Regions from separate parts of the Homo sapiens genome. Here all the other regions are linked to region 4. The links come from fine-mapping of genetic effects on gene expression. A gene starts in region 4. Each other region holds a variant in brackets. All regions are shown on one strand. Distances are between the middles of the regions. Region 1 overlaps CERK (ceramide kinase). Region 2 overlaps CERK (ceramide kinase). Region 3 overlaps GRAMD4 (GRAM domain containing 4). Region 4 holds the start of CERK (ceramide kinase).

Region 1 (7,703 bases), 54 kb before region 4:
TCCATCCATTCATCCATCCACCTACCCACTCATCCATCAATCCATCCACCCACCTATTCATCCACCCATCCATCCATCCATCCACCCACCCACCCATCCATCCACCCACCCATCCATCCATCCACCCACCCATCCATCCATCCATCCACCCACCCACCTATCCATTCACCTACCCATCCATCCATCCATCCATCCATCCATCCATCCATCCATCCATCTTTCCACCCACCCACCCACCCACCTATCCATCTACCTACCCATCCATCCATCCATCCATCCATCCACCCATCCACCCATTTACCCACCCACCCACCCACCCAGCCAGCCAAGTCCTTGGTGCTGGGACACAGCAGTGATGGGCTAGGAACCTGCCAAACACACCCTCACATCCTTCCCAGGAACACATCCATGCTGTGATAGCCACCGACCCCTTCCACCCACCCCTCTGTCCTCTGCAACAGGTCCTCCCCCAGCTTGCTCCTAACTTGGAACAAGGCTCAGACCTACCTAACCCGTTGGCAGCCCACACTGACCCCTCCACACAGACAGGGGGCAGTGTGGGCCCATGGCAGGTGTCACTGGAGCCGGGCCATGGAGGAGGCGGAGGGGCCTCCCAGGGGCTTCTGAGTGCTCAAAAAGGCCAACCTTGTGGGAGACCACCCACCCTCGGCCCACAGGCTCTATGCCTAAACCAACAACTTGCCTGTTTTGCGTATATTTCACCATTTAGTGTCAATAAAGGTGCCTACATATACCTCTATCACCATTTACGGGTGATTGTGATAACTATTTCAGTGCAGCTGGTTTCCTTGGCAATCGTGCATGTTTTAATGCATGCATTTTACCTTACTCAGCGGCATCTCTCGGCTGTACCTGGCTACCAGAGGGGCTGTGCAACAAGGAAAGGTCACAAACCTGTGGGGCAGGCCTGGTGCCCTCTAGGACTTTTGTTCTGGGAGTGATGGGGCACTGCAGAGCTTCCAGCAGAAGCTGGCACTCTGGCTGCAAATCAGAAGAGGGGTCACCCAGGGTGGGGGTGCGTCAGGGAGAGTCCAGAGGGGAATGAAATTGTTAATGATTTTATTCTTGAACCAGGGGTTCTCTTCATAGGTACTTGCTATATGTTTTTAAATATTTACTGGATGAATGTAACGGATGAATGAGTAAATAAATCAGAGAGGGCCTCACATGGACCAAAGTGAGTGACGCTGGGAACCCAGGGTTGTGGTCCATTCTGCTCGTCCTGCAGAACTCCAGGAGGCAGCATTCTATGGGCTTATGAGCTCCAGCAGTGTTTGGAGGACAGGGTTGGCCAGAGACTACAGGAGCCACAGACTAAGGGCACAGCCAAGGAAGGACCCCAAGACCCCGTCCTGTGTTGGTGTGAGCTGGGAAAGCCGCCCAGGGAAAGGGCTGTGCAGCCACCCAGTGCTGCTGAAATCAGAAATCTGCCCTCAAAACCCCTGGAACCAGGAAGCCCAGCTCTGCCCTCCTCCTGGGGCCCTCGGGTCCACGTCAGCTGGAAGGGAGACACCTGGGATCACAGAGGGGCAGCTGGGGTGGGGCTGGAGCCAAGAGGCAGTGATGGGCAGCTGACCACTCCCTCAGACAGGAGCTGGCCCATGCCCCTGCCATCCTCTCTGCTCAACTCTCTACCACATGTCACAGCTGGCATCGCAAGCTAGGGGAAATAGCTGGACCATGCACGATTGTAAAGAAGACATTCAGCTGTTACTATCTGTAAATGATATGATGACAGAAAACCCCGAAATTCACAGGTAAATCATCATCATAGGAGTGTGGAAGCTGCTGGTACAAAATGAGTCAGGGGAGGCCGTGAAGAAGCTCTCGAAGACCTGCCTGTAGCAGAACTCACCCCAGAACCCTCGGGACTGCGACGAGGGCGCCCGCCCAGTGACGGCCACTCCTGCGGTGAACAGTACTGCCTCCTGCCAGGAGCTGCTGTGACCTGTGAACTTCGTTCTAGAGCAGCTTACATGGACTTCTTTGCCTTTTAAAGTGTTGCCTTTATCGCGAACACCCCCCAAAATGCCTTCCAGTGTAGCACGCATATCCTGACTGCAATCCCCTTGCTGTTCCTGAATAAACTCTTTCTTAGGAGAACACTCTGATGTCACTTTAGGTTGACGGGAGGCAAGGTTTCTGGATATAACCCAACACATAAAAAACAATTGTGGCGGGCAGATCACGAGGCCAGGAGTTTGAGACCAGCCTGGACAACATGGGGAAACCCCATCTCTACTAAAGATACAAAAAACTAGCTGGGCATGGTGGCATGCACCTATAATGCTAGCTACTTGGGAGGCTGAGGCAGGAGAATCACTTGAACCCCGGAGGCAGAGGTTGCAGTGAGCCGAGATCACACCATTGTACTCCAGCCTGGGCAACAGGGCGAGACTCCGTCTCATAACAAACAAAAAATTGCATTTCTATGCAAAACAAAACAAATTTTAAGATAGCCTCAAAGGCCAAGTGTGGTGGCTCACGCCTGTAATCCCAGCGCTTTGGGAGGCCAAGATGGGAGGTTCACTTGAGGCCAGGAGTTTGAGACCAGGCTGGGCAACATGGTGAGACCCTATCTTTACAAAACATTAAAAAGCCTCAAAATAAGAACTTTTGGCTGGGCACAGTAGCTTACTCCTGTAATCCCAGCAGTTTGGAAGGCTGAGGCAGGAGGATTGCTTGAGCCCGGGAGTTCGAGACCAGCCTGGGTAACAGAGTGAGACCCCTGTCTCTACAAAAAATTTTAACAAAATAGCCAGGCATGGTGTTGCACGCCTGTAGTCCCAGTTACTCAGGAGGCTGAGGTGGGATTGCTTCAGTCTGAGAGATTGAAGTTACAGTGAGCCGTGATCACGCCACTGTACCCCAGCCTGAGCAACTGAATAAGACCTTGTTTAAAACAAGGTTAAAAACAAACAAAAGTCAAGTTTTAGGAATAAATCTAAAAATTTAAAGACTTTCATGGAAAAAATTATAAAATAATTAAAAGACATGAATGAGGATCTTTCATGGACCAGAAAAGTCAGTTTCACAATGCAAATGTCCTTTCGAAGTTCCTCAAATACAAATGCAAATGCCCTCTCAAACATGTGGAGTGGGCCGGGCGCAGTGGCTCACGCCTGTAATCCCAGCACTTTGGGAGGTCGAGGCTGGTGGATCACGAGGCCAGGAGCTCGAGACCATCCTGGCTAACACAGTGAAACCCCGTCTCTACTAAATATACAAAAAATTAGCTGGGCGTGGTGGCGGGCACCTGTAGTACCAGCTACTCCGGAGGCTGAGGCAGGAGAATGGCGTGAACCCAGGAGGCGAGCTTGCAGTGAGCCAAGATTGTAGTGAGCCGAGATTGCGCCACTGCACTCCAGCCTGGGTGACAGAGCGAAACTCCGTCTCAAAATAAATAAATAAATAAAAATAGACATGTGGAGTGAAAGAAGCAAGTTACAGAAAACAACACGTTTCCTTTGGATAAGGAGCAAAACCTGCAAAACTAAACTCGCTGTTGCAGATACAGCCATGGACAGAGGCAGGAAGGGATGCGCTTGGCGTGACCTCGTAGCGCCCTCCCAGGGGGAGCGGGGGGACTCCAGAGCAGGGCACAGAAGGCTTCGGGGCGGCGTTCAGTTGCCTGGCATAGGTGGTGGTGACACCTTGCTTCATTTTATTCTTGTTCTTTAAATTGTGTGTGTTTTCATGAAAAATATTCTGCTTTGAAAATAACAGGTATGTGTAAAGGAAAGAAAGCAAGCCAAGTCTGCCCAAGTAACTTTATTCGTGTCTTCTCAAACATTTCAGATCAAATAATGCCATTTTCTAATCTTGAAACCAGCAAGATTAGAAAGAGAATGAGGCCATCCTTTCACTCAGACTTTCCCAGTTACTCAAGATTGTATTCAGGAACGAAGTCAAACTCGGCCTCACTTCTTAATTAGAATAAACTAGAATCAGGTCCATTGCATAACTGCTAATTGTTTTGCACCAGGGAGCCACAAAGGAAGCTAAAACTAGCCTTTCTAAGTTATCCTAAGTTTTTACTATCTAACCAGCACTTCTGATTTTTTTTCCCTTAAAACTCTAAAGTACAGGTGTTGTATGTCTGCCGCATCTGAAAGGCTGCCCCGGAAATCAGAGCCTATCTAGCGGGAATGTCTGGGCAGTCACCCCCATCCTGCGCGCAGATAGCAAAGGGCTGCTGGCAGGTGTCAGACACACGGTACCGCAACAGCAGTCCCGAGGTCTGAGATTCTGAATGTCAGCAGGTGGCTGGAGAGTATCACCAGAGCCACTCAGGAACCAGCCATGCGGAATGGCTGGGTTTCTTATTGAACATGAAATGCTTCCTCTTTGGCCTGGACTGTTTTGCTAAAATTGTTAGTGGGTTTTGGGGCAGGCCAGTGTATGGGAAACTTTTTTTTTTGTTGGGGGGGGCGATGGAGTCTCCCTCTGTTTGCCCAGGCTGGAGTGCAGTGGCGCAATCTTGGCTCACCGCAACCTCCACCTCTTTCTTGGGTTCAAGCGATTCTCCTGCCTCAGCATCCCTAGTAGCTGAGATTACAGGCGTGCGCCAACAAGACTGGCTAAGTTGTGTATTTTTAGTAGAGACGAGGTTTCACCATGTTGGGCAGGCTGATCTCAAACTCCTGACCTTAGGTGATCCACCCGCCTCGGCCTCCCAAAGTGCTGGGATTACAGGCGTGAGCCACCGCGCCCAGCCGGGAAACATTTACCAGGGACAATAAAGGCTTAGAAGAACCTTTTGGGGAAACTTTGTGAGGAGCACAATTCCAGAGGGCCCACAGCAGCCACAGCCTCCTGGCGTGACACCAGGCACACTGCCGGCTGCACAGGTTGCTGGGCACAGGCAGGCACAGCCAGTCTGGAAGAGCAGCCCGTCTTAAATCTTTGGTTTCTTTCCAACCAGGAGCAAACATTGGTAGAAAGAGCCAGGGCATATTTACTCTTTACACCCAGAATTTTCATTCATTATTGAACCATTTGGCTTGCACAGTGCTCTCTGATAATGTGGTCCATAAAAACCACCATTAAAGCTGCCCTTTCACCTGATCTGGGTGGGGCTAAACGAGGAAACGAGAAGTTTCCTGTATGCTTCAAAATATAAATCAATGCCAGGAAATTCTGAAAATGGATGCTGCCTGTTAAAC[A/G]TGAAATCACTAAGGGAGCTTCTGCAAAACCCACCCGGCAGCATGAGGAACGGTGTCTACAGCGTGCTCCAAACGGCCACGGCCCCGCTCCTTACAGATCAAAGTTTAAGCCGCATATTCTCATATTTCAAACAAAACTACGTTACAGACATCATCTACGTGGGCACGGATACACACTAAACAAGGACGTAGTACACAATTGAGGGGTGCCCCGGGGAGCGCGGCAGGAATGCCTTCCGGGAAGAATCCTCTGGTCGCCGGAGCCCTCGCGCTGCAGAGGAAACCAGCGATCCATCGTGGCTTCGAGGCAAAAGACAGACATCCGAGACGCAGTTTACACTACTCTGGCTTAAAAGGACAAGATGTTCAATAAATATAGAGAACTCAGTGTGAAGAAAAGACAAGGACAAATCTGGACCACGTGTACAGACTTCAGGCCCTGCCTCAGAGGAGTCCTGCGGGAGTCCAGGACCGGCCCCTCCTCCACGGATGGCCAGCTTCCTCCTGACTGCCCCCAAGCCCGGCTGTGTTAAGCACTTCGCGTCGATATAAAGCATTGGTATTTGACATTTTAACAGTAACAAACTTGCCAGTGCTTTACACACTGCCAGCTTCCAGAGCTTATCATCCGTGCTCCCAGAACAGACGCCAAGGTCATGCTCCCAGCCGGATTGTCGTAGCCTCGCCGCCGTGATGAGGCAGGTGTGGAGGCCCCAGCAGCCTTCCCGGCGCTGGCGTGGAGGCCCCTCCCGCGGATCACCTGAAGCAGGGCCACGTTGCATTGCAGTTGCACAGTATTGTAAGGATCAAGCAGCGATGTCCTAACCGTAAACGAAGAGGAAGGTGAAATGAAGGCAAAGAGAATCAACCACTTCCCAAAACTTGGCCACAAACCGTTACAGAATAAGTCCTGCAAAGTGGATCAAAGTGACCCACTGCTACCTCAGGCCCAGATGGTGTGACCTGCGTGGAAATCATATAATGTCCCTAACATTATTGCAATAGAGCCACTAACGGGCCATTTTCTAAACTACACTGTTGACATCGTTAAAACCTAAGAGGCCAGTGCCCCCAAGTGAGCAGCTGCATCCGCTGAGAGTAAGCGGCGTGGGCTGCAACCCGCAGATGCGTACAGAACTGAAAATGCCAAATATGTACACAAAATTGTTGACAAAAGGGTTTTCTTCTAAAATCAAGATTTAACTATCAAAAATAAATTTCTACATTTAAATGTATATATCAACATAATTGGTCTGTAATAATTATCTTAAATAGTTTTCACACTTTCCCAGTTTGTGAGCAGGACGCCGGCTTCTCAGCTGTGTGAGTCTGGCTTCGGATTCTCTTCAATTCCTCGTGCAAAGAGTCGAACCAGCTGGCAGTGGACTCTGCAGAGACAAGCGGCCACGTGTAAACCCCACGTGTCCCTCACTCAAAGCTGGCCTGAGCCCCACTCCTGGACAGGGGCTGCAGTAAACCCCACGTGTCCCTCACTCAAAGCTGGCCCTGAGCACCGCTCTTGGACAGGGGCTGAAGTGGGGGTCCATCCCCCATGGAACGGTCAGACGTCACCGTGGGCTGTAGGAGTCCAGCCCACAATGACGGGCCCTGGGCGTGGAATAATTCACTTAGACTCCCGGGATGCCGAGTTTGTAAAGGGGTTGCCAATGGCCAGGTGGGAAATCTGGGCATCGGTAGACCTGACTCGAACTCCAGCACCCCCATGGAAAGCAGAGCGTCCGCTCCAGTGTCTGCCCACTCCACCCACCCACCCACCTCCATTTTCTCAGCAGTACTGAGCGCGCAAGGCCTGCGAGGAGTCTGTGCGGGGCGACTCAATGCGTGTAAGAGATGTGTGAGGAATGCTCAGATGAGAAGGACAGGTGGCCCAACGCCAGCAAGAGCCTTCGGGCTTGAGGAACAAGTTGGGGGTCCCTGGAGGTCCCCTGCCCAGGGGCTCGGTGGCCACAGTGAGTCCGTGGGTGAGTGCCATCTTCCCACACAGGACAGCTCTATTTATCTCATTTATTAATGATATCACAGCCTCCTCAGACGTATTTCAGTAACCTAAACCCCTTCATTAAGTGACAGGCTGGGGCAGGGCACAGTGACTCACGCCTATAATCCCAGCACTTTGGGAGGTCCAGGCGGGCGGATCACCTGAGGTCAGGAGTTTGAGACCAGCCTGGCCAACATGGTGAAACCCCGTCTCTACTAAAAATATAAAAATTAGCCAGGTGTGGTGGCGGGCGCCTGCTACTTGGGAGGCTGAGGCAGGAGAATTGCTTGAACCTGGGAGGCAGAGGTTGCAGTGAGCCGAGACCTCGCCATTGCACTCCAGCCTGGGCAACAAGAGCAAAACTCTGTCTCAAAAAATAAAAAAATAGAAATAAATAAGTGACAGGCTGTTTCCATGGAGCTGAGCTCACACACACACAAATTATATTTTTAAAAGCGACGTGCTGCTCAAGGCATAGCCATATTTATCAAGATAGACAGGACGTATTTCAAGAATGC
Region 2 (7,703 bases), 44 kb before region 4:
AAAATAGCATTAGACTAGATCTTAAATAGAACTTAAGTAAAAAAAGAAATGTGACTAAATTTGGAGACTGTGACCAAAAGTTCCGCTTCCCCCAACATGACTAGACTCGGGTCTTCCTCTGCATAGGCTACAGAAAGATGTGGTAGAAGGGTCCGAACAGAACCCATTTCTGGGAGCCTAAAGAGTCTATTTTCAGTGGCCTGCAAGGGCCACTTACATCTTTACTGTGTCGCTTTGTTCTGTTTTTAAATAGGAAGAGAAACAACGGGTAAGAAGTTGTATTATAAAGATTCATACCTCTTAGTTTCTGTGCTCAAATACATGTGTGTGTATATGTATGTATGTATGTGTGTGTATATGTATGTATGTGTGTATATGTATGTATGTGTATGTATATACACATATATGTATATATACACATACACACACATGTATACATACATACACACACACACACACACACACACACACATATATTTGAGATGGAGTCTCACTCTGTCACCCAGGCTGGAGTGCAGTTGCGTGATCTCAGCTCACTGTAGCCTCCACCTCCTGGGTTCAAGCGATTCTCATGCTTCAGCCTCCCGAGTAGCTGGGATTACAGGCGCACGCCACCACGCCTGGCTTTTTTGTATTTTTAGTAGAGATGAGGTTTCACCATGTTGCCCAGGCTGGTCTCAAACTCCTGACCTCGGGTGATCCGCCTGCCTCAGCCTCCCAAAGTGCTGGGATTACAGGCATGAGCCACCGCATCTGGCCTCAAAAATTTATCGTTTTAAATGATATTTTACAAGGAGTAGTTGTAACCAGGAGTTTAAAGTTTGTGAAATTAAAAAAAAAAAAGTTTGCCCTTCCTTCCCTTGAATTAAATAATGAATTCCTACAACACATAAACCAGGGACTGCTGGAACATAAATTACTCGCCAGTGGAGGCTCCATGCAAGAGCACCCCACTTACCTGGTCCTGCTGGTTGGTGTGCCTGATGAGAAATCTCAGAAAATTGAACCTGGAGCATTTCCGGATGAGGATGAGGTCAGAAGACCCGTCTCCCAAGTGGGCAGCCGGGGAGAGGCCCCTGGGGCTCCGGCGACAAGCACAGGACATGTTTGTGGCATTGATGGCCAGAAACTTCCCACAGACGACTTGCCACTCCTCCACGTCCTCTGAAGCACAAAGAACCACGGAGATGTCACAGTTACAATGGCGCCGGGCAGCGCCCTGCACCAGGACGGTGGGAGGCCATTCGGGCTCTCACCTGCTCATGCATTTAGCAGACACTTCATGCAATCGACTCTTCAGCTCAACACCAAAAACATCCACCACGGAACTGTCCGCTCCCCGCAGGAAGTGGTACCCAAAGGATCACCTCCCAGAAGGCAGGACTGTTGTCCCTCTCCTCACTTGGTGACTTTTGGACAATTTAGAACAAGGGTCAGCAAACCAAGGCTGTGTGTCAGATCCGGCCCGCCGCCCGTCTGTGTGTGGCCTGAGAGCTAAGAATGCTTTTCACGTTTTTAAATCCTTGAAAAAGGTCTGGCGCGGTGGCTCACGCCTGTAATCCCAGCACTTTGGGAGGCCGAGGCGGGCAGATCACCTGAGGTCAGGAGTTCGAGACCAGCCTGGCCAACATGGTGAAAACCATCTCTACTAAAAATACAAAAATTAGCCAGGCGTGGCGGTGCATGCCTGTAATCCCAGCTGCTGGGGAAGCTGAGGCAGGAGAACTGCTTGAACCCGGAAGGCAGAGGTTGCAGTGAGCTGAGATTGCGCCATTGCACTCCAGACTGGGCAACAAGAGTAAAACTCTGTCTTAAAAAAAAAAAAAAAAAAAAAAAAAATTAGCCAGGTATGGCGGCAGGCGCCTGTAATCCCAGCTACTCAGGAGGCTAAGGAAGGAGAATCGCTTGAACCCAGAAGGTGGAGGTTGCAGTGAGCCGAGATCGCGCCACTGCAATCCAGCCTGGGTGATGGAACAAGACTCTGTCCCAATAAATAAATAAATATTATTGACTGGGCATGGTGGCTCAGACCTGTGGTCCCAGCACTTTAGGAGGCTGAGGCAGTCAGATCACCTGAGGTCAGGAGTTTGAGACCAGCCTGGCCAACATGGTGAAACCCCATCTTTACTAAAAATACAAAGATTAGCTGGGCATGGTGGCACATGCCTGTAGTCCCAGCTACTAGGGAGGCTGAGGGAGGAGAATCGCTTGAACTCGGGAGGCGGAGGTTGCAGTGAGCTGATATTGTGCCCCTGCACTCTAGCCTGGGCGACAAGAGTGAAACTCCATCCAAAAAAAAAAAAAAAAAAAAGAAGAGAAAGAGAAAAAAATCAAAATAATAATATTTTGTGACATGTGGAAATTCTATGAAACTTAAATTTCAGTGTCCATAAATAAAGTTTCATCGGCAGATGGCCATACCCACTCACTGTACACTGCCTAGGCTGCCTCTGCTGGACAGAGACTGTGTGGTTGCCAGGGCCTGAGGTGGTCACCAAGCAAGCCCTCAATGGGACATCTGCTGCCCCCACATTCTAGAGCACCTGGGACAGGAGTCCAGACTCAGCACCACAACAGCGTTTCAGAAAGGGTAACGGGG[C/A]CTTTCACAAAACCCACTGCTCCACACAGCCACACACGGCAAGTAACAGTGACCTGACGCTGCCTGGGGCTAAGAAGAAATGGATGCCTGGTGCCAGACAGGAAAAAGGAAAAGCACAGGTGGGCAGGGAGAAGAGGCAGTGCCCTGAGAGAGGACAGAAACCCGCACTCCAGCACACACAGTGACAACACTGAGCCTGTGTTTTAGGAATTACCCGCAGCTTCCAAACCATACAGTGCTTTCTTCTGCTCCTCCTCCAGCTGCTGCTTGCTTTGCCTGCAAACAAAGCATCTGAAAGACAAGAATATCATCACCTTTTAAATATGGAGCTGCAGGTGCAGTGCGTATGCTTGGCACATATAGATGTATTTACATTCTTTTCACATACGAAAAAATTCCATTTCAAAGGCTTAACAAAATATTTTTTGGCATATTAATTAGAGGTTTCAGAATGAGACCTACTTTTACAATGACACATTCAACATGTCCTTCTCTAAAAGGTTTGGACATGAGGAGAAGCACAGCATGAGGACGCTGAGGTGCCACCTGGAGACGGTTTCTGCCTGGCCCTCCAGCTAACATAGCCTGGCTGGGAGAAATGACTGAGGCACTGGTTCCCCCAGCGGACTCCTGGGGTGAGGACTCATTTACTTTCAGAAAACAAATCATACAGGGTTTATCTGTTACAGTCAATAACAAGCAAATAACTCAGAACCATCAGCTTAGAACTTAGTCATTCGTCTAGCACGTCCTTCTGATCTTGGGGGCTGCCGGATTCACGCTGTCAAACAGGACACTGTTTGCACTGATGGAAATCGCTCATCAGCAGCCGAGTTCTTTAATGCACTGACGCAAACAGCATCTGCCTCTACATATTCTGATTTTATGGTCTCCAATTCTTCACTTAAAAAAGGAAAGGAGCTAGAAGGAGGTTCTGAAGTCTGCATGACTTAAAAGGAAAGGACGTGAGTGTCCTTCACAAAGGCGCAGCTGTCTCCACAGCCCCGTGTCCTCAGCCCCAGGCAGAGCAGAGACAGGATGACCATTCAGGCGCCCTCCATGGTCACTAGGGAGGTCATGCGGCCTGGGACAACTATGTTTAGATTTATTTAAGGTTCTATTTACACTGGTCGCATATTACTGAATACACTGTGTGGGGGTGGGGGCGGAGATATGCCAGGTGAAAGGAGTCCCTGCTTGTTCAGTGGCGTAGCCACCATTGCAGAGCCTGCAGTGGCCAAACTGGGGGACCAAATGTAAGGGGAGAGCGCAGCGTTTCCAGCTGTGTTGTCTGCACTCAGCCTCCCCTCCCCGGTGGGGCGCCTCTTTCCCTTTGCATCCCCTCTCCCTGGGCAGCTGCCCTGGCTCTGCCCCCCAACCCCTGGCACCAGCCCTTGTTGCCAGCCCGAGCCTTCTTGCTGAGGGTCCCTGCCTTCCTGTGGGGTTGAAGGCGTGGCTGGCCTGGGCTCTGCTAACCTTAGAGTGGGCTCCTGCCTTGGAGCATGGGGCTAACATGGGTGAGGGTCTCAGCCAGGGGTGTGGACAGGAGGGTGGCTGCTGAGAGTGCACACTTCAGCCAGCTCTACCAACGGTCCTGCCACCAGTGCCCTGCACACGCACAGTCACTGATAAGGTGTCTGCCATCCTTTCCTGCCTGCATTTCTCCTCCATCAGGCCCCTGCAGGGGGTAAAGGGAACCCCAGCAGGGAAAGACCCTGTGCTCAGCCCCCACTCCAACAGTGGGTGTGGGACCCTCCCCCAGAGTCCTCATCCCTGGCACAGCAGCAGCTGCCTGCGCAGGCCATGGGGACAGAGATGGGGACAGCAAGCCCCATGCACGCCTAGGCCATCATGGGCATCATAGGCATCGTGTGTCTGGGCACGCTACATCCGGCACCTTCCACCACATTTGGAAAATACTTCTGCATTCACCTTCCTAACCGTCCTGCTTCATTTCCCGTCATTTGCAAGAGAAACACACAAAGCAATGCACTTACCCTGCCCGGCAGGGCTTCCTATCCCTTGGAGATCCCACCGTGTGTTGTGCAGGGAGGAAGGACACTGTCCCTTCATAGCAGTGGTGGGAGAGGAAGGTCTTTAAACCTGGGAACAGAGTGCAGTGAAGAAAAAACATCCACAAGGGTCATTGCTTGGTTAGGATGCTGTGCTGGGCAGCTTCAGAAATGTCGCTGAGCGCGCATCTGCCTAAACCGTCTGCAGGAGGGAGAGGCCGGGCCTGCTTCAGGCCATGTCACCATTGAAGGCAGTGGCAGGGTCTCTGCCCTCCCTCAGGACAACAGCACGTCTAGTCATAGTGCTGGTGCCTTCTGACACCCAGTGATGCTGGGACAGCCAGGGCTATGGCCACTCTTGACGCTGGCAAAGTGGGGCCTTTGCCATTAGCCACCCCTCATAGCCTCGATGATGTGGCCTGTGGGCTCCAGTGGCTCAGGGTCATCCCCTCCACCTCTTCATGAGGGTCAGTGATGCCCCCACCTGCCTCAGGGCTTGGCCCCCACTGGGGTCAGCCACAGCCCCTGTGACGTCCTGAACAGCTCAGGACAGAGGCCAGGGCCGCTGCCACCCAAAGTCTGGGGCCACCCTCCAGGCAAACGTGTGCGCTGTCCACGGGGCTGCCAGCAGCCTGGCACCCGGGCTGTCTGGGAAACACCACCCAGCAGGACAGCAGGGACTGGGCAGGAGGCAGGAGAGGGGCCCCAGGGTGTCGTGGGCCACACCAGGAGCCAGGCCGTGTCCTGTGAGTCTCAGGGCGACTTCACTCCTCCGTGTCTGATGCTGGGGCTGGTGCTGCCCTGTATGACATCTGGTGTGGCAGTGACGGCCTGCAGGGCCGTCACACACAACCTTACCCCCGACACACAGAGGCCTCACATCCTCATCCGCAGATGGCAAGCCCACAGCCAAGTGTGCACCGCCCAGGGGTGGGGGAAGCTGCCGGCAAGAGCAGTCTGGCTCCTAGGACATCTGTGTGCCTGAAAGTCAGCTCCCGACTGTCCCTAGGACAGCCCCGTCTGTGGGTCTTGCACCTGGCATGGGCCAGGTGCCTGGAATGCACTCAGCGGGCGGGCCCTTCCAGGTGGCTGCAGCTCCGCCTCCCTGCAGAGTGGCTCTGGCCTCTCTCCCTGCTCCTCCCATGGGGGTCCCACAAGGACGTCGTGTCCACGGCCCTGGGAGGAGGCCGACCCACTGGTCAGCAACCTTCCAAGCCGGCTCCTCTCTCAAGTGCAGGGGGCAGGGGGGCAGCTGCCTCATCACCCAGACGCAGCCTCCAGGGTGGCGCCTCACCGACATCTGATGTCCCGGTTTCTGTCTGCCCCTAGATGGGCCCCAGATGTCCTACCGGCACCTAAAACTCCACGTGTCTCAACAGAGTGTGTCATTTCCACACGCTCATTCTCCTTCCATGCCCTCTGTGCTGCTCCAGAACAACCGGGTGCTTTCTGCCTCACAGCCACAGAACCCAAACCCGCTTTCCTGAGAGCATCTCAGGCCCTGTGGCCAGGATGGGGATCCAGAGACCCGGAAGGCGTCTCCTGCCTCGGGGCTCTCATCCTGGTGGGAGGGACAGAGCTGCAGCCACTGCCTGTGGTGATGGGCTGAGGGCAAAGGGGGGGGCCAGGCATGCAGGGGGGCTGCCCACCACCCCACCCCAGCAGGCAGGGACAGGGAGGGGGCATCCCAGGGGCATTCTAGGCAGAGCCACACTGGGCTCAACAAAGGGCAGTCGGGAGAATGGCACAACCCAAACCGCTTCCTAAAATTCTCGCGGCTTCTCTAATTTTCTCGGTATTCCCTTTCTTAATAAGCCTTAGATAAATACCTCACTTTGCCATTTCTTAGGTTTTAATTTTCAAGCCACACTAGTTTTTAATTTCATTAAATCTTTTCAAGCTTCGTAAAGTTTGCCAAATCACTATTTCTTTCTCTCATAAGGGTTAAGATTTTAGTATCAGGAATTACTCGATTTAATTTGATACAGATTTATCTGAAAGCGAACTGTAAAGAGGCGGGAAAGTCGACCGGGCAGCGAGAATGGCACACCTCATGGTCTACATATTTTCTTCTTTCTTTCTTTTCTTTTTTTTTTGAGACAGGGTCTGGCTGTCGCTCCAGCTGCAGTGCAGTGGCCTGATCTCTGCTCACTGCAGCCTCCACCTTCTGTGCTCAAGGGCTCCTCCTGCCTCAGCATCCCGAGTAACTGGGGTGCCCGGCTAATTTTGTTTTTAATTTCTGTGGAGATGGGGTCTCCCTATGTCGCCCAGGCTGAAATTCTACTTTTCTTTTTTTTTGAGACAGAGGTCTCGCTCTGTTGCCCAGGCTGAAGTGCAGTGGCACGATCTCAGCTCACTGCAGCCTCTGCCTCCCGGGTTCAAGCAATTCTCCTGCCTCAGCCCCCCGAGGAGCTGTGACTATAGGTGTGCACCACCATGCCTGACTTATTTTGTATTTTTAGTAGAGACAGGGTTTCACCATGTTGGCGAGGCTGGTCTTGAACTCCTGACCTCAGGTGATCCACCTGCCTTGACCTCCCAAAGTGCTGGGATTACAGGCGTGAGCCACTGCCCCTGGCCAATTCTATGTATTTTTAAAGTTCTCCTTTTCCAGCGTTTAAAAGCTGGTGACGTCGCACCCACTGCCTGATGTGTGCAGACTGCAACTCTTGTGTCTGAACTGGCACCAGCCTTCATTTCTGGTTCATTCTAAACTCTGTGGTCGGGTAACAGGTCACCGCCGCCTGGCCCGAGGCCCCAGCAGCAGCCCCGGGAGCCTGGAGGACCTGCATGTTCCGAAGCCCACCCAGACCTGCCGTGTTGGATGCTCTGGGGGGTCCCCGCAGCCTGGGTTCTACCAAGCCCTCCAGAGGATGCAGGTGCCCACCACAGTCTGAGGACCACTGGGCTCAAGAAAGAGTGAGGCAGGATGCGGGCAACCTCTTTGTGCCTGTTTTCTCCGCTATAAAGTGGGGCAGGAGCACCTGCTGGGGTGAGAAGAGCACTGTGGAGAATGAAAGCTTTTGGGCTTCAGGGAGTGCGGCGTGGCATTCGCTCCCACTCCTCCTCCTCTGTGCCCACTGCGGCCGAGC
Region 3 (7,703 bases), 110 kb before region 4:
AAGTGCTGGGATTACAGGCGTGAACCACTGCTCCCAGCTGTTCTCTTTTCTTTTAAGGTTTGTGTGTTTTTAAATTGACTGAACCTTTAGTCCCTCTGCAATTTGTAGCTCCTATATGGGAAGCTTTTCCAAATGGCTGGCTCATGCTCCCTCAGCCTATGAGCAGCAGTTGCTACCTCCCCATCACCCACATCCCCCTCCTGGGGTCCTCCCAGCTTCCAGGGGATGCTGGGCATCAGGACAGCTCCCCGTAGAGCCTGTGTCCTGTGGGATTTTTTTTTTTTTTTTTTTTGAGACAGAGTCTCGCTCTGTCACCCAGGCTGGAGTGCAGTGGCGGGATCTCAGCTCACTTCAAGCTCCGCCTCCTGGGTTCATGCCATTCTCCTGCCTCAGCCTCCTGAGTAGCTGGGACTACAGGCGCCCACCACCACGCCCGGCTAATTTTTTGTATTTTTAGTAGAGATGGGGTTTCACCGTGTCAGCCAAGATGGTCTCAATCTCCTGACCTTGTGATCCGCCCGCCTCGGCCTCCCAAAGTGCTGGAATTACAGGCGTGAGCCACCGCGCCCAGCGTCCTGTGGGTTTTGCAGCAGGGCCGGCATCAGGAATACTCAAGTGCCCATCCCAGGAGAGCCTCCCCTCCCCTCACCATGCTGGGAACCTCCGCGCCTCTGTGGCTCAGAGTGGGTTCTAGTGCGTTCTGTGTCTTCGGTCCTCACTGTTAATGAGTCTTCTTGCCACGAACTGTGATGCTGAGGAGAGCGGAGGAGGCTTTGGGGGCGGGGCAGGCATGTAGGAGCTGGAGCTGACCTTGCTCTCAGTGCTTCCTTGCCATGCTGCCCGCCCCAAGCAGGAAGTTTGGGAAATACCCCCGCCAGGGATCACTCCCCGCCCCATCTCCTTGCTCCTGGCCCAGTTGCCCTGTCTTCTTGAATTCCTGGATACCTTTGCCTTACTGGCATCTTTCCATTTTCAGAGGCAAAAATGTCAGCTCAGAAAGCTGGTCAGTGGCAGGACAGGCTTTCAGCCCAGGTGTGTACAGAGCAGTCCTCCCACGGGGACCCAGTTGTCTTGGACAAGTTGGGGACGGGGTTTTGGGAGAGGCATCCAGGCCATGGAGCTGCGTGATGGGGCTGGGGCTGGGTGGCCTCTCCCTGCCTGGCTGGCCCCTCCTGTGGGCCACTGATCCTGGCCTCCAGGCTTTTGGGGGTGCCTTGGTGTTGCTGGCCAGGTCGGGCAGCGATGTGGGGAGCAGTACCCCACGGCACATCCGCCCTTTGGCACGTGGTGTGTGTGAATTACGCGTGTCCTGATGCAGCACACAGTGACTCGCACCTCAGTGTGACCAGGTTTCTGTGTTGATTGGAGGAGGAGGCAGGCATGGGGGCTGGGACAGGAGGCCCAGCTGGCCATGGGTGCCTGACCCCGCTGTCTCTGGGAGGGCTTCTGGGAGGTGGTGCGATCTGAATGTGTCTCAGAGTATGAGCCTGGTCGCATGGCGAGTAGGAACACGCTTTAGGCAGAGGGAGCAGTGTGGGCGGAGTCCTGGGAGCCGGGGCCAGGTGGAGCAGGTGGGACACAAGGCCAGGTCCCCTAGGTCCAGGAGAGAATCAACCGAGGCATCCCTAGCACACGCATCTGCTGGTTTCCAGGCGTGGCTGCCGTCCTGGTGGTGTATGTGGCCGTCGTGTTGACCACGTTCTTGACGGTTTGTTAGGCAACCTTTTGGCATGGCTGGCCCTCCTTCCCAATGCCAGAGCAGCATTCTTCCCTTGCGCCTGCGCGCCGCCTCGCCGAGCCAGGCTGAGAACCCTGGCTTCCTTCTGCCTGCTGGGAGCCGGGGGCCTCGCTTGGTGGGAGGCAAGGACGCAGCTCAGCACTGACCAGGCTGGCCTGGGTGGGGTGGCCAAGGGCCCCACCTGATGGGTGCAGGGCGGGGGTCTCTGGGTCGGGGTTTTCTTTGGAAAGCTGGACCGGCCGTGCCCTGCGTGTGGGAGCTGGCTCGTGGGGCTTGGAGGTGTGTGTGGGAGGGACGGTGGCAGGGCGGGGTCTCTGGGTCGGGGTTTTCTTTGGAAAGCTGGACCGGCTGTGCCCTGTGTGTGGGAGCTGGCTCGTGGGGCTTGGAGGTGGCGAGCGGGAGAGTGACCACGCCCCTCTCTTGCAGGGAACCCGAGCGTCATGTTAGGGTGAAGCAGAGGACCTCAGTGCTGAACATGCTAAGGAGGTTGGACAAAATCAGGTTCAGAGGTCACAAGAGAGATGACTTCCTCGATCTAGCGGAGTCTCCAAATGCCTCGGACACCGAATGCAGCGACGAAATCCCCCTGAAGGTACCGCGGACCTCGCCCCGGGACAGCGAGGAGCTGAGGGACCCTGTGAGTACCTGTCCTCGTCCCCCGGTGTGGGCTGGGGTGTCGTCCCCGTCCTCTGTGGCCGGGCCAAGCGTGGACTCAGGCAGATTCGTGTCCTGCCCATGCTGGTCAGAGATGGACTGGGCCTGACTCTCTGTCTCACCTGCTCCCGACCCCTGCAGACCTTGTGGGGCCGGGGTGCTGCCACGCCGAGCCTTCTGTGTTCGCAGGTCTGATTAGCGGCTGGATTGGTTTTCCTCACTGGCTTTTCTGGGTGGGTGGCAGACTTCTCACGCACATGTGACGCGGAAGCCTCGGCCTGGCCCTGGGAGCGTTGACATGCGGATGGAGCAGGGCGGGCGTTGTCTGGAAGCCGCTGGTGCCTGGCTTGTCTTCTATTCAAGCCAAGGTGCACGTTTCCAGCCCCCAAAGCTGGCTAAGCCCAGGCTGGGCCCTCATCAGCCACGCGGAATCAGGGCTGGGCTTGTGGCCAGCTGGGGGGACAGCAAATACCCACGGAGCACCTCAGCTAGGCCCTGGGCCCTGGGTGGGAGCCAGGTGGGGAGCCAGGCGGGAGCCAGGCAGGAGCAGGCCCTGCCTTGCAGAAACTTGCATTTGGTGGGGGGTGGGGCAGGGCCCGAAGCATGGTGGGTTGGGCTCCCTGCGGCCCCTCCTCTGGCCCAGCATGGCCTCTAGCTCCTCCCCGCATGCACACACCAAATTTGGTGTCTGGCTGGTTTCCTCCTCCAGCCCCTGAGCCAGGTCTTCTTTCCAGGTGTGGCCTGGGAGCGCCGGCCTTCCCTGGCTCCTTGCGTTGCTAATGCTTTATAACAGGACAGTGACTGTGCGTTGCTTTCAGCAGGAATTAATAATTTACTGCTGCTGCTGCTCTCTCGACACTGCCCGATCAGGCAGGTGGGGCCGCTTGGCTTCCTGGGGCATCACTACAGACCACAGAGTGCCCGGCCTGCCGGGATCGGCCATCCCCAGGCAAAGGTTGTGGTTGGTCCTGGGGGTGGACCGGGACCCCGGTAGGGTGTCTGCCCTTGTGCAGGTTATGTGGCAGAACGGCAGGGGCCTGCCTTCGCCGGAGAGCTGTGTCTCATCCGCCTCTGGCTGGGGCTGGCACAGAGGGCATGGGTCACGATTCTCCGATGGTGGTCTGTGTGCTGAGCATGTGGTGGGTGTCTCGGGAACAAAAATCTCCCTCCCGACACATACATGGTTCAACAGGGAGGGGTGACGGGGATTCCACGCAAAGGCCAGAGCGGGGCTGTTTCCCCAGCTCCCTCTCCGCCATCCGTCTGTCCTGCTCCAGGTGTTGTCTCGGTAGGGACCCTCCCGCCTGAGGGACCCTGTGAGTACCTGTCCTTGTCCCCTGGTGTGGGCTGGGGTTTCGTCCCTGTCCTCTGTGGCCGGGCCAAGCATGGACTCAGGCAGGTTCGTGTCCTGCCCATGCTGGTCAGAGACGGACTGAGTGTGTGCGTGGTGTCTGAGGGGCGGGTGGACTGAGTGTGTGCGTTGGTGTCTGAGGGGCGGGTGGACTGAGTGCGTTGGTGTCTGAGGGGCGGGTGGACTGAGTGTGTGCGTGGTGTCTGAGGGGCAGGTGGACTGAGTGTGTGCGTGGTGTCTGAGGGGCAGGTGGACTGAGTGTGTGCGTGGTGTCTGAGGGGCGGGTGGACTGAGTGTGTGCGTTGGTGTCTGAGGG[G/A]CAGGTGGAGGGCTGCAGTGAGGGGGCCAGGGCCAGGGTTGCAGGTATTGGTCTGGTTGGAGCAGCAGGAGGTAGGGCTGTGGGATCATGGGAGTCTTCACCTGGGGCAGAACATCTGGATTTGGGGGGCATCAGGGATCCCCTTCGGGGGAGGGTCAGTGTCAGAGCTGGCCGCTCCAGGGTGATGTCTGGGGAGTAGCTTGGAGAATGTGGCTCCTGGGGGTGGCAGAGGGTATGGCGCTAGCGGTGTTGCTGGCGTCACAGGAGAGGCAGGCCGTGGTCTGGACCAGCTCTGGTGGGCAGGTGGTGGTCCACGAGGTACAAGGGGGCTTGAGGGGGCATGTTGAGTTGAGAGGGAGCCCACCGAGTAGGGGCAAATGCTGCAGAGGCCAGGGCAAGGTCAGCCTGTGGACTGGGGCCCCCCTTCCTCGAGGCTGTGAGGGGCTGCGGGGGGAAACCACCTCAGGGACTCGGACGTCTGGAAACCCAGGAGATTCCTAGTGTGGGTGAGCAGGGCCCCGCTTGGGGCATCGTGCTGAATGCAGGTCAGGCACTGACTGCAGAGACCAGGCTGAGTTCCTTAGCTGTGTAACCTGGACCTGAGCCTCAGTATCCTCAGCTTTTAAGGGGGACGGCAGTCTCGTCCACCCCCAGGCCTGCTTTAAGGATCAAATGAGATAATAAGTGAAACGTACGTGGCTGGCGTCTTGCTTATGGTTAGCTTGGAGGGAGTTGTAATTATTAATGACCGTGAAATACTGATTCGCTAAACCCTCCTCCTGGTTCCAGGGCTCCTTTGCGAAGCCTCGTTCCTGTAGCACGTTGACACTGCTCCGGCCCAGGCTCACGAGGCCCCCGGGGTGGGGGGCTGTGCAGCGTTGCCCTGCTCCTTCCGAGGTCCCCTCTCATCACCCTTCTTTACACGGGCAGCCTCCCAGAAACATCCTGAGACCTGGGCTCAGGCACAGAGGCCTTGGGGGTTGGTTTTATAACAGCTTAATCGAGATATTCCCACCGGGTATACAGTATACAGTTCACCCACTAAAAGTGTGCGACTCAGGGGTTTCTATTAATAGCATATTTACAATGCTGTGCTACCATTACTACAGTTTTAAAAGGTTTTTATCACCTGAAAGAGACCCCGTTCCTTTCACAGTCACTCCCATTTCCCTTGGCCACCGGCCCCACCAGCTGCCAGCCTGCTTTCTGTCGATGGATTTGCCCATATGGGGCATCTCATATAACATGAGGCCTCGTGTGTCTGTCCTTTGCTCGCATAAGGGACGCGAGGTTCATCCATGCTGCGGTGTGCATTGGTGCCGCCTGCCTTTTTATGGCTGAACCTGTTTCATCATATGGCCAGGCCACATTTTCTTTTTCTTATTCTTTTTTTTTTTGAGACAGAGTCTCACTCTGTCACCCAGGCTGGAGTGCAGTGGTGTGATCTCGGCTCACTGCAACCTCCACCTCCCAGGTTCAAGCGATTCTCGTGCCTCAGCCTCCTAAGTAGCTGGGATTACAGGCACACACCACCACGCCCGGCTAATATTTTGTATTTTTATTAGAGACGGGGTTTCGCCGTGTTGCCCAGGCTGTTCTCGAACTCCTGAGCTCAGGCAATCCACCCGCCTCAGCCTCCCAGAGTGCTGGGATTACAGACGTGAGCCACCGCGCCCGACCTGTTGTCTTTATTCATTGATCTGTTGTGGGCGCTTGGGCAGTTCCATTCTTGGACTGTGATGAATGAGGCTGAATGCCTGCGATTGAGTGTTTGTGTGCATGTGCTTCCACATGGTCTCGCTGGGCCATGCAGAGGCCCGAGATTGCCCTTTTCCAGGATCTACCGCATTCTCATGTGCAGCCGCGCCATGCTCCGTGCCCACCGGTAGGGTCTGAGGGTTTCCCTGGAGGGGCAGGTTCAGACCGGAGCCCACCTTGCAGCCTGGGGTGTTCTGACCGCCCCTCTCAGTGCTCCAGGAGCTCTTCCGTGGCGGACCCCAAGCAGCCTCACTCCTGGCAGCGGCTCAGGATCTCACCCTGGGATGTTCGTCACTTCAGCTAATCTGTCCCCACTGAGGGATCGCAGGTGCTTGTGGCTCTTAGCGTCCATCACTCCTGGCAGCCTGGTGCCCATGTGGGCTGCGGCACTTTTGGTGGAAGTGCTGGACCGAGTGTGCCTGTGTGGTGGTCCTGGCAGCTGTGCGGTGTGCCCTCCATAGCCCCCCGAGGGCCGTGTGCCCTCACCCCGGCCTCCGCAGTGTGCCCTCCATAGCTCCCTCGAGGGCCGTGTGCCCTCACCCCGGCCTCTGCAGTGTGCCCTCCATAGCTCCCTCGAGGGCCATGTGCCCCCACCCCGGCCTCCACGCTGTTCTCAGGCTTCTCTCTCCACCGCCCCGAGGGGCAAGACGGCAGTGCCGAGTGGCTGTAGGTTGCACGGCTTTTATTGTGCAGGAAGTTGGTCATCTTTGCACACATGTAGGCTTCATTCTTTTTATTTGTTGTGGTAAAATACACAGAGCATTGAATGTACCATTTTCATTTTCACTGTCAGTGTGCAGTTCAGGGGCACGGAGCACATGCCCTCTGTTGTGCCACCATCGCCACCTCCACCTCCACCTCCACCTCCAGAACCTTTCGTCATCCCAGACTGAGGCCCAGCACGTGTCACACGCCAGCTCCCTGGTGGGAATTCCTCCCTGCCACACCCCGGCAGCCTGCATTCCGCCTCCTGTCTCTGAATGTGACTCCTGGGGACCGGGGATGGGTAGAACCTCACAGCCTGTGTCCTTTCGTCTCCTGGGGACCGGGGATGGGTAGAACCTCACGGCCTGTGTCCTTTCGTCTCCTGGGGACCGGGGATGGGTAGAACCTCACGGCCTGTGTCCTTTCGTCTCCTGGGGACCGGGGATGGGTAGAACCTCACGGCCTGTGTCCTTTCGTCTCCTGGGGACCGGGGATGGGTAGAACCTCACGGCCTGTGTCCTTTCGTCTCCTGGGGACCGGGGATGGGTAGAACCTCACGGCCTGTGTCCTTTCGTCTCCTGGGGACCGGGGATGGGTAGAACCTCACGGCCTGTGTCCTTTCGTCTCCTGGGGACCGGGGATGGGTAGAACCTCACGGCCTGTGTCCTTTCGTCTCCTGGGGACCGGGGATGGGTAGAACCTCACGGCCTGTGTCCTTTCGTCTCCTGGGGACCGGGGATGGGTAGAACCTCACGGCCTGTGTCCTTTCGTCTCCTGGGGACCGGGGATGGGTAGAACCTCACGGCCTGTGTCCTTTCGTCTCCTGGGGACCGGGGATGGGTAGAACCTCACGGCCTGTGTCCTTTCGTCTCCTGGGGACCGGGGATGGGTAGACCCTTACGGCGTGTGTCTTTTCATCTCTGGCCGCTGTCACCAAGCACCATGTCCTCCAGGTGTGCTCCGCTTCATTCCTGCTTCCTTTCGTTGTGGGCTGTTTGTGTCCTGGGACAAAGTGGCTGAGAGTAGAACCCAGACCTGCTTGGGAGGGGAAGGTTGGAGGGGCCCTGGGTGGGCTTGAGGGGCCCACGAGGCTGGGCTGGGAAGGGGAGGTAAAGGTGGAAGAGACAGGTAACTGTGTGGCTGGTGCTGGCTGGAAGGAGAGGTGGCAAGAAGGAGGTGGG
Region 4 (7,703 bases):
AGAAAACAGCCCAGGGCCCAGGAGAAGGTGCTGGGCTGCTGCGATCCGGGTGATGTTTACACAGGTGCACACAATTATCAAAATTTAACCAACTATGTGCCTTAAAATGTCTGAGTTTTATTGCATGCAATTTAGACCTTGATAAAATCGATTTTTAAAAATCATGTCTTAGGAGAGGAATTAGTAGCGTGGAAAACACTCTGCAGTATGTTTTCTCAGCTTTTCTTTCATGCATATTTACATATACACAAATACCAAATATTAATCACGTCTAAGTCGAAGAGTGACTTTTTGTGTATGCTTTTCTGTGTTTTCTCGATATTATTAAATCAACATGACTTACTTTTGTAAGCAGGAAAAACATTTTTTTAAAGTATCTGTGGCATGCCTATGTTTTGCCAGGCACTTTGCAGGGTGTGCTGAGGACACGCTTTATAAACACAGTACTGACCTGCCCAACGAGTTCACCACCAGCCTGGGACATCCCAAGTGGGGTTGGTGGAAGGAAGGGGAGGATCCTCCCACAAAGGTAGAGCCTGGGCAGTAGTCCCCTCACCCCCCAACACACACACACACACACACACACTCTTCCCATTCCCAACTCTAAAGGAATAAATGCAGGGTTTGTCTAAGTGTGTTTTGCGACAGTCAGGGGAAATAACCCAGATATCAACTCAGTGTTTCCAGTTCAACGAGCATGACCCACTTCAAGTTCCTGTTTTCGTCCTGCCCTACTTCCCACCAGGCTGGCGGCCCAGGGCACTTGCTGTCGCGGCTTCCTCAGGTGCAGACCTCACCCAGGCCCAGGAAGCTGCAGCGATCCAAATTGCTAGTCCTTGTCTGTGCTCTTGTACAGTCAGTCACTGTCCCAGCATGATGACCCACTGACGAAAGTGCACGTGCCTGGGTTCAAAGCCAGCTCCCTCTGTACATCACTGCCTCTGGGCCCAGTCAATTCCCACTCCTACTGTCCACATCTGAAATAGGGGTGATGCTACGGAGAAAACAAAGGAGTCGGAATAACTAAGCGGCCACCCCAGCAGGGCACACACAGTGGCCTTGGCTTTGTCTTTAGCCCATTGGTCACCTGGAGCTCCAGGGCTGCTCCTGCCTCATCTCACAGGTCCTCCTAGGGCCAGTTTTTGCACAATTCTCCACCTCTCATCATTCCTCAACCTAATCAATCCCAGTGTGCCCAGATACACCTGGGGGAATGGGGAGGGCTGGGCAATGCCACCTTGCTGACCAAATTAAATGTCCTGTGAGCTGGTTCACATTCTTCTGCCCTACTATGGCCCTACTGACCTCAAGCATAGAAGAATCGAACCTGGGCCTGATTCCTTTTGGGGACTGTAAAGCTATGAGAAAAAAACTAGAGACAGTGTGGCTGTATTCCTGAACTCATTCACAACTTAGCGTTTCCCAACTTGTTGATGTTTTCCCATTGCATGGGAGAGCACTCCTGGGTGGAGAGGGCAGGCTGCTTCCTGGAGGAAGCCCACCAGCCAGGGCCACCAGCCAGGGCCCCACCATCCATGGCCCCACAAACCAGGGCCCTCCCTCTCCAAGAGGGACCAAGCTCCTGGCAGGCCAGTCAGGCAGCTCAGGATGAACCCGCACAAAAGCACCTTGGCTTAGCAAGAGTGAAGCAATTAGCATGCCAAGAGGCAAACCCCAGCAGGCTGGACAAAAGCAGACGCCACACCACACCAAGCCCTGACCTGGGGGACCAGAAACCATAATGGGAGCTGGCTGGGGACGCCAAGGCAGAAAGCAGTGATGACTGACCTCCCACACAGATGCCCTGTAAGGGTCTGGCGTCTCTGCGGCGGCTGGAGCCTGAGGGAAGCCTTACAGCCCAGTGGCTACAAGCACAGCAGCTAATTGGGCCAGTCACTTCCAGCCCCTGCAGATCGGCCCCTGCATCCCTAGGACGGGAGCAGCTGCCTCTCAGGAACCCATCCGGTTTGAAGCCCAGTGGCCCGCACTTAGGAAGTGCTTGGGGGAGGCAGTCATCTTCCTGAAGCCTAGGGATTTACAACAAAGTACAAACCCTTCGGGCCCAGGTCAGGCACCTGTTCTCCTTGTGTGTGGGCCCTGGTGGGTGATATTTGGGGTGTGACATTTCTACCAAAGGGGACATGAGAAATACCTTAGGAAAGTCAAGTCTCAGATGCCCAGCCACAGATAGGTGACCCCAGGGCTGGAAACCAAGTGTTGGTCATGGGTCTGAGACCACCCCTCGACCTTGGCCCCACCTAACGTTCAACTCTGTCCCCACCAGAACCCAACCCACAGATCCTCACCACTCAGCACCAGAAAGCGCCCAGAAGAACTCCTGACCTCGACTGCCCACAGGGTCTAAAGGTGTCATCCCAGGCTCCGAATATCCACCAGAGAATCTTGGCCTCCGCCACACCCACCCCATTCCAGCTCCGCACATCCAGCATGAATCCTGGCCTCTGCCACACCCACCCCAATAATTAAAAAGAAAAAAGGCTGGGTGCGGTTGCTCACACCTGTAATCCCAGCACTTTGAGAGGCTGAGGTGGGCAGATCACCTGAGGTCAGGAATTCAAGACCAGCCTGGCCAACATGGTGAAACCCTGTCTCTACTAAAATACAAAAATTAGCCGGGCGTAGTAGCGGGCTCCTGTAATCCCAGCTACTCCGAGGCTGAGGCAGGGAGAATTGCTTGAACCCAGGAGGCGGAGGTGCAGTGAGCCAAGATCGTGGCATTGAACTCCAGCCTGGGCAACAGAGCAACACTCCGACTCAAAAAAAAAAAAAAACAAAAAACAAACAAAAAACAACAAAAAACAAAAACAAACCCTCTGTCCTCCTGCAGGGCTCTCTCCAGGGTGGGCTATGCGTCCTCCATGTTTACCAAAGTCACTCTTCTCCTCATCCGGAGGGCCTCTGCGGGGCAAGTAGCCAACCCGTGGCACGGAAACCAATTCCCCCATCCCGAGCAGGGAGCACACCCCACAGAAAGTCAGGGGCCCCTTCTTTAACTTCTTAACAGGAAGTCCTCACCCTGCAAGGGCGCCTCTCAGGTTTCGGATCCCTGCTAAAGAAAAGCATCTGTTCTTGGAGTAAACTGCAATGCGCGCGGTGGGGAGCGCCTGGCACCCCCCCTCGGGATCCATCCACAGTCCGTCTTGTCCAGAGGTGCCCTGCGGACAGACCGCACCGGGGGCCACGACCCCGCGCCCCGGGTCCCACCTCCCCGCGGGGATGGGGCGCCGGCCTCCCCTCCACTGCGCGGCGCTTTGTCCTCGGGTTCCCGGAGCAGACGGCGGCGCACAGCCCGGCCCCTGGCCCCGGCCTCCCTCCCGCCTGCCCCGACCCCTCCCTGGCGCCTGCGCTCCCAGGGCCCCCGGCCTTACCACAGCCGCTCGCTCCCTGCACCCGGTCCCCCCAGCCGGGTCCCCCAAGCCGCCCCCGCTCCCTGGCCAGGTCCGGCCGAACCCGGGCGGCGGCGACACTCACCCGCGCCGGGGGCGCCGGCTCCGGGCCCCGGGCTCCGCCACCAGCGCAGCAGAGCCCGCGCGGGCTCCAGGCTCACGGCGCAGCGCTGCTGCTTCACCCACAGCACGGATTGCAGCGGCTCCGCCGCCCCCGTCGCCCCCATCTCCGCCGCCGGGCTCGTCCGCCAGGCTGGGGGCGCGCGGACGCCGAGGGGCGCCGGACCGTTAGCGGCCCCTGCAGTGGCCCGGGCGGCGGGCGGCGGGCGGCGGGAGGCGGCGCTGCGTCACCCCGTACGCGGGCGGCGGGGACCGCGGAGGGGACGGGCGGGGCGGGGGCGAGGAGGAGGCGTGGGTAGAGGAGGGGCCGGGAGCCAGGGAGAGACGGGGGGACCCGAGAAGGGGAGAAGAGGGAGGAGGAAGGGGCCGGGATGGGGCTGGCCGAGGCCAGGGCGCTGGGGCCGGGAGGCGGCTGCCTTTCTCTCCTCTCTTCTCCGGCGGGTGCCGGGTGCTGAATCTGGCGCTCCCGCGGCCGGCCGGGACTCAGTGGCGCCTTCCGCGCGGGCCTCGGTTCAGGCGGGGTCCGGGCGGCGTGGAAACGCAGTCCTGGCGATCGGGCGCGGCGGGGGGCGGGCCTGGATGGGGGCGCCACGGGCGACGTGACCTTGGGCGGCGGGTGCCCTCTACGATCCTGGCGTCCTGTCGGCCTGGGAGGGGGCCTGCAGCTGGGCCCCGACAGGCAGGTAAGGCTTTCAGGAGGCGGAGGTCTTTTTAGGGGGCGGGGGCGCTGGCCCTTTGAACTGCTCTGGGGCCTGAAGCCACAGAGCAGACAGCTGAGCAGCCGCCCCCGAGCTGGCCCTAGGAACCGGAGCCTGGGCCCCAGACTTGGAGAGACACGGCCCCTGTGGCCCCAATTCACCGCCTCCCCAGGAAGGCCTCCTTGACCCCACAGCTGAAGGAATCACCAGCCTGCAGGGACTCCAGCCCTGCCTTCAGAGCACGCCGTGCGCCTTCATGCAAGCTCCAGTCTCTGCGTCCGCAGTGCTTAACACAGCCCCATAGGAAGCAGCCACAACCTGGTTCGGAGGGCACATCCCTCCCTGATTTATCAGTGAAGACTGTGCTCACAGAGGTTAAGTCACTTGCCCAAGAGCACAGGGCTCCAGTGTGGCAGAGCCTAGGCTCACACTGACACTGCCTGGATGTGACACTGAGGTCTGAGGCCTGCCCCTCCCCTCGGCTCCCCTACCCAGCCCTGCTGCTGCAGGCAGAGGTGAGGTGGGCTAGGTCCACGTGGCCTTGCTGCTGTGCCTGGCACCAGGTGGCAGCATATACAGGTCTTACCCTGCCAGCTCCTTGTGACTGTCTTGTCTATAGGGCGGGAACCAGCCATGAATCATTCCTCCCTGGGAGCCCAGCCCCTGTTCAGGCCATGCAGTGAAGGCCCCAGGACAGTCCTGCAGCCACCGTGGGCCCAGTCAGAGTCCTAGCAGGCAGTACCTGATCGTGGCACACAGTGGGGTGTGCAGCAGCGAGGCCTGCCCAGCCTCCTCCCTCCCTCAGCTGCCGCTCTGAGGCCTGGGAAATGTGGATCTGAAACTTACTTGGAAAGAAAAGCTCATGCCAGTGGCAGGAGGGTGCCGCTGCATGCGAAGAGGGTTGGCAGGCAAGGGTGGCATGGGCAGGGGCCCGAGAGCACCAGCGTCCCTACTGGGGACCCCTTCCCTGGGCCTCCCTGTGCTTAGGCTCCCCGTGCCCCTCCCGGCGTATTCACGTTGCTGTCCCCCGGCTGCACGCCTTGGCTTAAAATCCTGCAGCCAGAGGTGGGGGCCCAGAGACGACTCAGAAGTGCTTAGGCCCCGAAGGAGCTCCGTTGGGGGAGACAGCAACATCAGTTACAAAACACACAGGAGATTCAATGAGGCTGTTAGGGTGGGCCCTCATCCAGCGCGTCCTTACAAGAAGAGGAAATGTTGACCGGGCTCTGTGGCTCACACCTGTAATCCCAGCACTTTGGGAGGCTGAAGCGGGTGGATCACCTGAAGTCAGGCATTGGAGACCATCCTGGTCAACATGGTGAAACCCTGTCTCTACTAAAAATACAAAAATTAGCTGGGTGCAGTGGTGCGCTCCTGAATCCCAGCTACTCCGGAAGCTGAGGCAGGAGAATTGCTTGAACCCAGGTGAGCTGAGATTGCGCCATTGCACTCCAGCCTGGGTGACGAGAGCGAAACTCCATCTCAAAAAAAAAAGAAGAGGAAACGTGAACACACACAGACCCCCGAGGCGTGTGTACACAGGGGTGGCCATGGGAAGGGGCAACAAAAGAGAGTGACCTCCAGGAGGCCAACCCTGTGGGCTTGAACCTTGACCTCAGACTTCCAGCCTCTGCCAACTGTTCATGGGAGACGACAGATTGCTGTTGTTGAAGCCATCCAGTCCGTGATATTTTGTTATGGCAGCCTGAGCAGACCCAGGGGACCTGTAGTCCTAGGATGGGCTGGGGAGGGGCCTGGCCACTGCAGGGCCCCATGCTCATGCTCAGGGAGACAGGGTGATGTCACGAAGCCCAGGTTTCCAGAAGATGCACATCCTGCAGTTGAGTTGCATGGGAGAGGGGTTGGGTGGGGGTCAGGCCCTGTGTGGGGCCAGGGCCATGACTCTGGGCACAGCACTGGAGGGATGGGAGGAAAGAGCAGCTCCACCCCAGAGCAGCCGTCAGGTCCCTGCTGTGTGTCAGACCCAGGGGGCCCTTCAGGAGCTGGCTGCGAAGGACACAGGAGCTTTGAAAATGTAGACGAGGCCAGCCCTGGCTGCCTGAGGACCTCCCGGTACCTCACCCACCTCTTCCCTGGCAGGCACCTTTCCCACCTTAGACCCTGCCCAAAATGCCCTTCCCACACGTCTGCCTGGGAGGCCCCCACTCACCTTCTCCTTCAAACCACATCTTGTTTCTTCTGCCACAGAGTCCCCTGATAGCTCACTGCATGGCACTTCCACCCCCGGCTGCCACAGGGCCTCACTTCTCCTTGTGGCACTTCAGAACAACTGATGCCCCAACCTGTTGCTAGCCTGCTGTGTACATGGCTGGTCAGCTCTGCACAGGGCCCTGAGCTGCCAGGTAGGCCAGAGAGCATGGGCTCAGCCCCAGCAGCCTGGAGTTCTGGTCCTAATTAGTCAGGCCCTGACCTGCCACCTGACCCTGTCTTGTGTCCAGTCTGCAGGCTTGGGTTGCTGCCTGGTGGCCTGATGGCCCTGGAGCCTGCTAAGCCAGACATCCTGCCCAGCGGCGGCCAGCACCCGTTCCCCTGGGCGGCCAGGTTGTCCCACCCATGGGCCACCTGGCTCCTGAGGTTCTGTCTAAGCTGGTCCAACCCCATACCCACGAGTGTCCCACCCACTGGGTCATCCATACCACGGGCCCCGGCCCCTCCTGTCCACGGAGCCCTGGCCACCAGCAGGAGCCTGGCACCAGCAGCCCCGTCTAACATGGTCCCCGCCATGGCCTCTGATCTATTCTTCCCTTCTCTTCCTGGGCCCCTGGCCTTGTTTGCTGTGCCAGTCCTTCCAGCTTATCTCCCGAGACTCCCTGTCTCGTGAAGTCAGCACCACCATCTGACATCAGAAACTAGAATGCTGGGTTGGGTGGGAGGATCCTGGCACCAGCTGTACATGGGCTGCCAGGAATGCCATCCTCTGCCCTCCACCTTCAAGGAGAAGCCTCCCATGCTCCTCTTTAAGGCTGACTGCCTTAAAAAGGAGAATCCGAGGCTTCTCCTCAAGGGTCTGGAAGAAATGTCTTGGGCCCCAAGAGGCCCAGATATTTGGAGAGTAAGCTGATCATTACAAAACACACATCCCTACATTCGCCACATGATCCAGACAATCGCCCCTGGAAATGGGTATTATTTACCCCTTTTTACAGACGTGAAAACTAAGACCCACAAAACTAACCTGGCCTGCTCCGGTTGTACAGAAAGGTAATTAGATGGGTTGCAGGGGCACTCCAGGCTCCCCTGTCCCAGGCTTTGGGGTCTCCCTGCCGTGGGAGAGTCTGAAATGTGGGAACTGTAGATGACACAAGCTCCAGGCTTCAGCCTCTGTGGGCCCTGCTCCCTGGGCACTAGGGCGGGCCAGTATGTTCCACCCTCCAGGACGTGCAGGACTGTCCTGCCTCAGCTTCTCTTACAGGAAGACGGTGCTGCCCTGCCCATCCTCAACCTGCCCATCTAGAGA

The links.
Region 1: its variant is fine-mapped to the expression of CERK in whole blood (INTERVAL, PIP above 0.99).
Region 2: its variant is fine-mapped to the expression of CERK in whole blood (INTERVAL, PIP above 0.99).
Region 3: its variant is fine-mapped to the expression of CERK in whole blood (TOPMed, PIP 0.96).

What each region holds. Positions count from the first base shown.
Region 1 is chr22:46,680,633-46,688,335 of GRCh38, forward strand. It overlaps CERK (ceramide kinase), which reads right to left. Exons shown (of 13, transcript NM_022766.6): 13 at 3,778-6,574. The coding sequence ends at 6,502. It also overlaps a transcript of GRAMD4 not described here. Among named protein-coding and RNA genes, the nearest start is that of CERK, 54 kb to the right of the region's middle. RefSeq lists an enhancer at 2,898-3,399 and a silencer at 5,680-5,974. The variant A/G (reference allele first, on the strand shown) is at 5,187.
Region 2 is chr22:46,690,614-46,698,316 of GRCh38, forward strand. It overlaps CERK (ceramide kinase), which reads right to left. Exons shown (of 13, transcript NM_022766.6): 9 at 4,597-4,702; 10 at 2,814-2,890; 11 at 959-1,164. Among named protein-coding and RNA genes, the nearest start is that of CERK, 44 kb to the right of the region's middle. The variant C/A (reference allele first, on the strand shown) is at 2,600.
Region 3 is chr22:46,624,587-46,632,289 of GRCh38, forward strand. It overlaps GRAMD4 (GRAM domain containing 4), which reads left to right. Exons shown (of 19, transcript NM_015124.5): 2 at 2,165-2,375. The coding sequence starts at 2,214. Among named protein-coding and RNA genes, the nearest start is that of GRAMD4, 8.1 kb to the left of the region's middle. RefSeq lists enhancers at 2,696-3,481, 6,219-6,719. The variant G/A (reference allele first, on the strand shown) is at 4,060.
Region 4 is chr22:46,734,515-46,742,217 of GRCh38, forward strand. It overlaps CERK (ceramide kinase), which reads right to left and starts at 3,738. Exons shown (of 13, transcript NM_022766.6): 1 at 3,493-3,738. The coding sequence starts at 3,634. LOC105373077 (a long non-coding RNA gene) reads right to left here and starts at 1,878. Exons shown (of 2, transcript XR_001755593.2): 1 at 1,789-1,878; 2 at 98-994. RefSeq lists enhancers at 1,550-2,123, 2,811-2,980, 4,219-4,877, 4,251-4,580 and a silencer at 3,131-4,090.